2 linked regions of the Homo sapiens genome follow. The protein of the gene in region 1 interacts with the protein of each later gene in a biochemical or structural test. Each region holds a gene or a part of one and is shown on either strand. Other genes may lie near its edges. The genes, in order: FCHO1 and EPS15L1.

The links.
Region 2: the proteins of FCHO1 (region 1) and EPS15L1 form a complex in vitro, tested with the Homo sapiens proteins (one study listed by BioGRID).

What each region holds. Positions count from the first base shown.
Region 1 is NC_000019.10:17,775,375-17,779,281, forward strand, and holds part of FCHO1 (F-BAR domain only protein 1), read left to right. Parts: intron 1-81; coding exon 82-139; intron 140-608; coding exon 609-787; intron 788-872; coding exon 873-897; intron 898-1,260; coding exon 1,261-1,312; intron 1,313-2,762; coding exon 2,763-2,854; intron 2,855-3,234; coding exon 3,235-3,510; intron 3,511-3,907. UniProt on the Homo sapiens protein: Functions in an early step of clathrin-mediated endocytosis. Has both a membrane binding/bending activity and the ability to recruit proteins essential to the formation of functional clathrin-coated pits.
Region 2 is NC_000019.10:16,465,285-16,469,191, forward strand, and holds part of EPS15L1 (epidermal growth factor receptor substrate 15-like 1), read right to left. Parts: intron 1-3,907.

The sequences.
Region 1 (3,907 bases):
GGGCGGGGGGCGGTTGGCAGGGTGAGATGGAAGGTTCGATAGTGGGGCGCCTGACTCACTGCTGCCCCCTGACTCCCCTAGACATGTCCAGAGGTGGATGAAGAAGGTTTCACTGTCCGGCCTGATGTGACCCAGAACAATATCCTTCTGGCACCCCCTGGGGGCAGTTGTTGGCACAGCAAGGACAAAATTCTCCGTAATAACCAGTCCACCTTCAGCAGTCCTCTCTGTGTACATCCTGGAGAGAGTCTCCTTTGTGGATGAAGCCAACCTAAATGTAAACACCCACTCTATGGGGTCAGCACTGGGCAAGAGGGAGAGAGAAAAGGAGATCTAGCAGGGCTTCCTGGAGGAGGGGGCACCAGTGTTGGGGTTTTGCAGCCGAATAGGAGTTTGCCAGTTAGTTCTGGGCATGCTTGTGCAAAGGCTTCTCGGGGGGGGTGGGAGTGCTGGTGGGACATGGTGTCAGGACTGAAGGTGGCGCGTGGTGAGCGATGGGATTGGGCAGGACCTCGAAGGGTTTGAGCAGGGAGGGACGAGGCTGGATTGGAGAGCTGACTGGGGGAAAGCTTGTGTTGGGATTGGCTTGGACCTTGACTGCAGCCCACGCACGGCCGAGCCCTCCCGTTTCTCGTCCAGCGACTCCGACTTCGACGATGAAGAGCCCCGCAAGTTCTATGTGCACATCAAGCCTGCCCCGGCCCGGGCTCCAGCCTGCAGCCCCGAGGCAGCAGCGGCACAGCTCAGGGCCACCGCGGGCAGCCTCATCCTTCCTCCTGGCCCAGGGGTGAGGCGTGGGAGGGGTGCCCTGGGTGTTGCTAGAGAGGCTGGCTGGATGCATTCGTGTGTGATGTTGCCCACTTTGTCCACAGGGCACCATGAAACGCCATTCTTCACGTGAGTAGCCTTTGGTCTTCAGAGTGGGGAGGATCCTAAGGAAGGGAGGCTATGGGTTTGGGCTTGAATCATAACTCCGTTTTGTAACTTTGGGCAGGCTGCTTAACCACACTGACCTTCAGTCTCCTTTTCTGTAAAATGAGGTCATTATGAAATTAAGTGAGAGCTGAAAGGGGTAGCTGGGGCCAGGAGAAGCTAGCATCTGGAGACAGGCTCGCTTAGGCTTGAATCCATGTCTGCCTGATTTGCTGATCACCTTGGGCAACTGGCTGGACACCCCCGAGCCTCGGTCCCTTGGTCTGTGGAGTGGGGAGCATTGCAGGCAGGGTGACAAGAAGGCTGAAGGAGGTGCATCTCTTGTAGGGGACGCTGCTGGGAAACCCCAGAGACCTCGGTCTGCCCCCAGAACCAGCAGGTGGGTTCCACACGAGTGGGCAGGTGGGGGCTGTCCCCACCTCCTCCCTCCACCTCCCCATGTCTCCGCCTGGTGTTCTCTTGTCCCGGCTGGGAGTTGACGTCATGCTGGGGTTTTTTTGTTTTTGTTTTTGTTTTGAGACAGAGTCTCACTCTGTCACCCAGGCTGGAGTGCGATTTCAGCTCACTGCAACCTCCACCTCCTGAGTTCAAGCGATTTTCATGCCTCAGCCTCCTAAGTAGCTGAGATTACAGGCACCCACCACCACGCCCAGCTAACTTTTGTATTTTTAGTAGAGACAGGGTTTCACCATGTTGGCCCGGCTGGTCTCGAACTCCTGACCTCAAGTGATCTGCCCACCTCGGCTTGCCAAAGTGCTGGGATTACAGGCATGAGCCCTTGTGCCTGGCCCATGCTGGCTTTTGAGGGACCATTTAGTCATTCATTTGATGAACATTTATTGAGTGCCTGCTGTGTACCTGTGCTGTTCTAGGGTCTGGGTTCTGAGACAGGTCTCCCTTCTCAGAGTCACATTCTAGTGACTCCAGATTTTAAGAATAGCAAATAGGGCCAGGCGTGGCGGCTCACGCCTGTAATTCCAGCACTTTGGGAGGCCAAGGCAGGCGGATCACCTGAGGTCGAGAGTTCGAGACCAGCCTGACCAACATAAAGAAACCCCATCTCTACTAAAAATACAGCATTAGCCAGGCATGGTGGCACATGCCTGTAATCCCAGCTATTCGAGAGGGTGAGGCAGGAGAATCGCTTGAACCTGGGAGGCGGAGCTTGCAGTAAGCCACTGTTGTGCCATTGCATTCCAGCCTGGGCAGCAAGAGGAAACTCCGTCTCAAAAAAAAAAAAAAAAAAAAAAAAAAAGCAAATAAGTTAGAGCATATTCGATACTTCTAAGTGCTACGAAGAAACTAAAGCAGATGACGCGAAGACAGGAGGAGGTGACTTCCCTTGAGGTGGGGTTGGGAACCTCCCTGAGGGGGTGACTTGGAGCTAAGCCCCAAAGAGGAGCTAGGAGGTGACTGTGAAGAGAGCTGGGGAAATGGAACTCCAGACTGGGAACAGGCTGCACACAGTGGCTCACACCTGCAATCCCAGCACTGGCCAAAGCAGCCAGATCACTTGAGGTCAGGAGTTTGGGATCAGGCTGGCCAGCATGGTAAAACCCCGTCTCTGCTAAAAATACAAAAATTAGCCGGGCATGGTGGCAGGTGCCTGTAATCCCAGCTACTCTGGAGGCTGAGGCAGGAGAATCGCTTGAACGCAGGAAGCGGAGGTTGCAGCAAGCTGAGATCGTGCCACTGCACTGCAGCCTGGCCGACAGAGCAAGACTCCGTCTCAAAAAAAAAAAAGACTGGGAACAGCATGTGCAAAGGCCCCAGGGTGGGATGAGGCTTGGGAAAAATAGAAGCAGCCCTCTTGGCCTCACCCTCTCTAGCTGTGCAGAGAGATTGCAGTCAGAGGAGCAGGTGTCCAAGAACCTCTTTGGGCCGCCCCTGGAGTCAGCCTTTGACCACGAAGATTTTACAGGTGATGGGGATAAGGGATTGGAGGGCATGGGTGTGGCCGGAGGGAGGTTGGGTGGGGCCATTGCAGAGTTAGGCCAATGAGGTCCCCTGGAAGCCAGGCTGGAGGGAGGACTAGTCCGTGTAGGGGTGGGCGGGGCCAGAGTGCGCGTGGGAGGGGCCATAGATAGGGTGGGGCCTTGGCCAGTGGGCGGTGACTGAGTGGATGGGCCGGACATTTGTGGAGAGGGAAGTCACCAGAAGGTGTAGCCTTGGGGGCGTGCACAAGGACTTTGAATGGGGGCCCCCCTGACCTTCCCTCGACGTGGCCGTGGCCTGCAGGAGGATGGGCAGGGACTCTGAGTGGGCGAGGGTCGGAGCTGACCGCCCGCTTCCCTCCCCAAGGCTCTAGCAGCCTGGGCTTCACCTCCAGCCCCTCCCCTTTCTCCTCCTCGTCGCCCGAAAACGTGGAGGATTCCGGCCTGGACTCTCCGTCCCACGCGGCACCTGGCCCCTCCCCAGATTCCTGGGTCCCCCGCCCAGGCACCCCGCAGAGCCCGCCCAGCTGTAGGGCGCCACCCCCAGAGGCCAGGGGTATCCGGGCACCGCCTCTGCCAGACTCGCCGCAGCCCCTCGCCTCGTCTCCAGGCCCCTGGGGGCTGGAGGCCTTGGCCGGAGGAGGTGAGTCCAGCGGGCCTGGGCCTGAGAGTTGCTGGAACCCTGGGCGGGGGATTGAGCGCCTGCTTTGGGCAGGGCCTGATCAGGCTGCTGGAGACACAGCCAGGACCAGGCAGGCAGAACCTCCCACCGTTGCAGGGACAACAATGAGATGGACATTTAGCAAGGCAGGCGGTAGCGGGTGCCAGGTGGGGGCCCTCCCTGAGGAAGGGACATCTGAGCTGAGATTTGAGGGAGGTGAGGACAGAACCACGTGGACATGAGGGGAAAGGCGTGCTGGGCAGAGGGCACAGCCCCTGCAAAGGTCCTGGGGCAGGAGCGCGCTAGGCCTGTCTGAAGAACAGCAAGGAGGTCTGCCTGCTGGAACGGGGTGATCACGGAAGGAGGAAGAAGAGAAGGC
Region 2 (3,907 bases), 1.3 Mb from region 1:
CCACCCGTGACCTGAGCCTCTGCTGTGGGCCGGGCCTGGACAACTCAATTCTGCATGGGCCAGGAGCACTGATTACCACTCTGGCAGGGAAACCTTTGGATTCTCCTAAAGACAACTGGCTGGGAGTGGTGGCTCACACCTGTAATCTCAGCGCTTTGGAGGCAGAGGCAGGAGGATCACTTGAGGTCAGGAGTTCGAAACCAGCCTGGGCAACATAGCAAGATCCTGTCTCTACAAAAAAATTAAAAATTAGCCAGGTGTGGTGTTGCATGCCTGTAGTCTCAGTTCCTTGAGAGGCTGAGGTGGGAGGCTCACTTGAGGCCAAGAGTCGAGGCTGCAATGAGCTTTGATTGCACCACTGTACTCCAGCGTAGGCAATAGAGCAAGAGCCTGTCTCTAAAGGAAAAAGGAAGACAATAAGCAGGCCTTTCCATGTCCCTCTCTACCTTTTAATGAGATGAGATTAAAGTAATAAAATAAAAACTCAGACTACATGATATCTAATAACTAGGTATAAAAACAAATGAGGTTAGGAGATGTCATAAACTTAAAAACAAACAAACAAAAAAATAACTTTCCAAGACAAGAAACTATGGTGCAATGAAGAGGCCTGAACCTGTGTCAGAAAAGCCATGTCTGCCTGAGCTCACTGGGTACAAACTTGGGCAAGGGACGTAACAATCTCTGGCCTCACTTTATCTATTTTTTTTTTTTTTTTTTTTGAGACAGAGTCTTGCTCTGTCACCCAGGCTGGAGTACAGTGGTGCAATCTCGGCTCACTGCAACCTCCACCTCTCAGGTCCAAGCAATTCTCCTGCCTCAGCCTCCTGAGGAGCTGGGACTACAGGCATGTGCCACCACGCCTGGCTAATTTTTGTATTTTAGTAGAGACAGGGTTTCAGCATGTTGGCCAGGCTGGTCTTGAACTCTCGACCTCCAGTGATCTGCCCTTCCTGGCCTCCAGTGATCTGCCCCTCTTGCCCCTATACACTGAAGATAATACTGGCCAGAGTGACCGGGAGGATGAACCAGGCAATCTATGATGTTTTCTTTACTCAGTCCTTCCAGCCTGGTGGTGAGACCTTTCCTGACCTCCATCATCAGATCGGAACCTGCCCTGCTCTACTCATCTCACAGCATCAATCCCCACCGAATGCACTACACATTGGGCTCATTTCTTTATATCTGGGCCCCTCCCAACGATGTCAGCCCCGTGAGGCGGCACTGCCTTCAGATTCACTGTTCCATCCACTGCCCAGAAAGTGTCCAGCAAAAAGAAGATGCCAAATAAATACTCACTGAACGAACAGTGTGATCTACAAAAGGCAGGCATGAGGGCCAGGCGCGGTGCCTCCTGCCTGTAATCCCAGCACTTTGGGAGGCTGAGGCAGACAGATCACTTGAGGTCAGGAGTTCGAGACCAGCCTAGGCAACATAGTGAAACTCCATCTCTACTAAAAATACAAAAATTAGCTGGGTGTGGTAGTGGGCGCCTGTAATCCCAGCTACTCAGGAGGCTGAGACAGGAGAATCGCTTGAATCCAGGAGGCAGAGGTTGCAGTGAGCCAAGACAGCGCCATTGCACTCCATCCTGGGTGACAAGAGTGAAACTCTGTCTCAAAAAAAAAAAAAAAAGGAAAGCACTGAGAGCACATGCGTCACACGGCAGGGTCCTGACACTCTACTGTGACAAAGCAGGTCAAGCGAGTCCACAGTACCATTCTGCAGATGAGAAAACTAAGGTACAGAAAGTATTTGCAGGACTGAGGGCAGTGAAGGAATATCTGGGAATCCAAACAAACATCTAAGGACCTAAACATTGAAAAGCAGGCACCACTGCACCTGATGGTGCCTGCTTTTCTTTTCTTTTTTTTTTTTTTGAGACGTAGTGTCACTTTGTTGCCCAGGCTGGAGTGTGCAGTGGAGTGATCTTGGCTCACTGCAACCTCCGCCTCCTGGGTTCAAGTGATTCTCCTGCCTCAGGGTCCCGAGTGGCCGGGATTACAGGCGTCCGCCAGGACGCCAGGCTAATGTTTTGTATTTTTAGTAGAGATGAGGTTTCACCATGTTGGCCAGGCTGGTCTCAAACTCCTGACCTCAGGTGATCCACCTGCCTCAGCCTCCCAAAGTGCTAGGATTACAGGCGTCAGCCACTGCACCCGGCCTGGAAAGTTGTTTTAAAGTTCAGAATGGAGGTGGAGGGGTCTTGCCCAGGGAGAATCTATTTAGTCGAAAAAACAACAACAACAACAAAAACAAAAAAAAAACAGGCCAGTGCAGGTCAATAAGTGACAGTCAGGGAATTCTGGATCTTTCAGGAGTGGATTTTACTCTAAAACTTCGTTCTCATCAATTTAGACTGCATTGCCATTAGCATTCTACTAAGATAGACTAGCACTTATTTCAGAGGAAGAAAAGAAACAAGGGACAAGAGGACAAGTAAGTGTCCGAGCCACTCAGCATTCATTCCAGACACACTGGCCGGGTGCTGCTCTGGGAGAGGTGCCCAGCAGGCCATCTGGAACAGCAGGGCTCTGCGGCAGGAGGACGCAGGTGTGACCTCAGCTCTGCGCCCACCAACTATGAGACTTCAGCAAGTTACTCTATTTCTGTGGGTCTTGGTTTCCTCACTTGTAAAAGGGGAATAAAAGCCTCCTAGAATGGAGGCACCTACTGAAATACAGCAAAAGCTCCTGGATGAAGAACACATAACAAGGGGGAAAGGAGGAAGGTGTAGCTCTTTGGGCCCAGGGCAGTCTCTCCTCATCACTGAGCCCAGTTACCACGCGCTTCCTAGGTACAGCGGTCACAAAAGGGACCCACGGAAGGTACAAGGGAGAGAACTCTCATTCGGGTGGGGCTAAGGGAGGACAACACAGGGGAGGCCTCAAAGACCGTCCTTCAGGGCAGGCAGCATACGGCAGGAGCTCACAGTGATGTTCTAGCAACCGGAGCAACACAGCTAAGGATGCTGAGGCTAGAAAGTGTTGCCAAGAGCCAGAAGTGCAGGAAAGGGACCCAGCAAGGTTAGGTGGAGTCGATTCAGGGCTTACTAAGGTCATCAAAGCTGACTTTTTTTGAGACTGAGTCTCACCCTGTTGCCCAGGCTGGGGTGCAGTGGCGCGATCTCAGCTCACTGCAACCTCCGCCGCCTGGTTTCAAGCGATTCTTGTGCCTCAGCCTCCCAAGTTGCTGGGATTATAGGCGTTTGCCACTATGCCTGGCTAACTTTTGTATTTTTAGTACAGACAGGGTTTTGCTATGTTGGCCAGGCTGGTCTCGAGCTCCTGGCCTCAAGCAATCCATCCACCTCAGCCTCCTAAAGTGCTGGGATTATAGGCATGAGCCACAGCGCCCAGCCATAAACTGAGTTCTTTTGGAGGAAGGGGAATGGGAGCTGTGAAAGGTTTTTGGAACAGGGGAATATGTTTTAGAAGATGAATCCTAGCCAGATGCAGTGGCTGACACCGTAATTCCAATACTTTAGGAGGCTGAGATAGAAGGATTGCTTGAGGCTAGGGGTTTAAGACCTGCCTAGGCAGCATAGCAAGACTTCATCTCTTCAAAAAAAAAATTGTTTAATTAGCTGGGTATGATTGGTGCTGCGCTCCTGTAGTCCCAGCTACTTGAGAGGCCAAGGTGGGAGAATTGCTTGAGCCCAGGAGTTTGAGGTTGCAGTGAGCTATGATCCTACCACTGCACTCCAGCCTGGGGGACAGAGCGAGACCCTGTCTCAAAAATCAAAAAGATGACTTCCACAGTGGCGTGGGATTAAGTGGGAGGGAGTGGGCAAGTAGGAAGTAGAATGGCCCAGACCACTTTGGGGCATGGCAAGGAAATGGCCCATTCCAGAGTCCAGCAGGCTGGCAGAGGTGCAGGAGAGAGACACCTTCTGGACTCTAGAAGG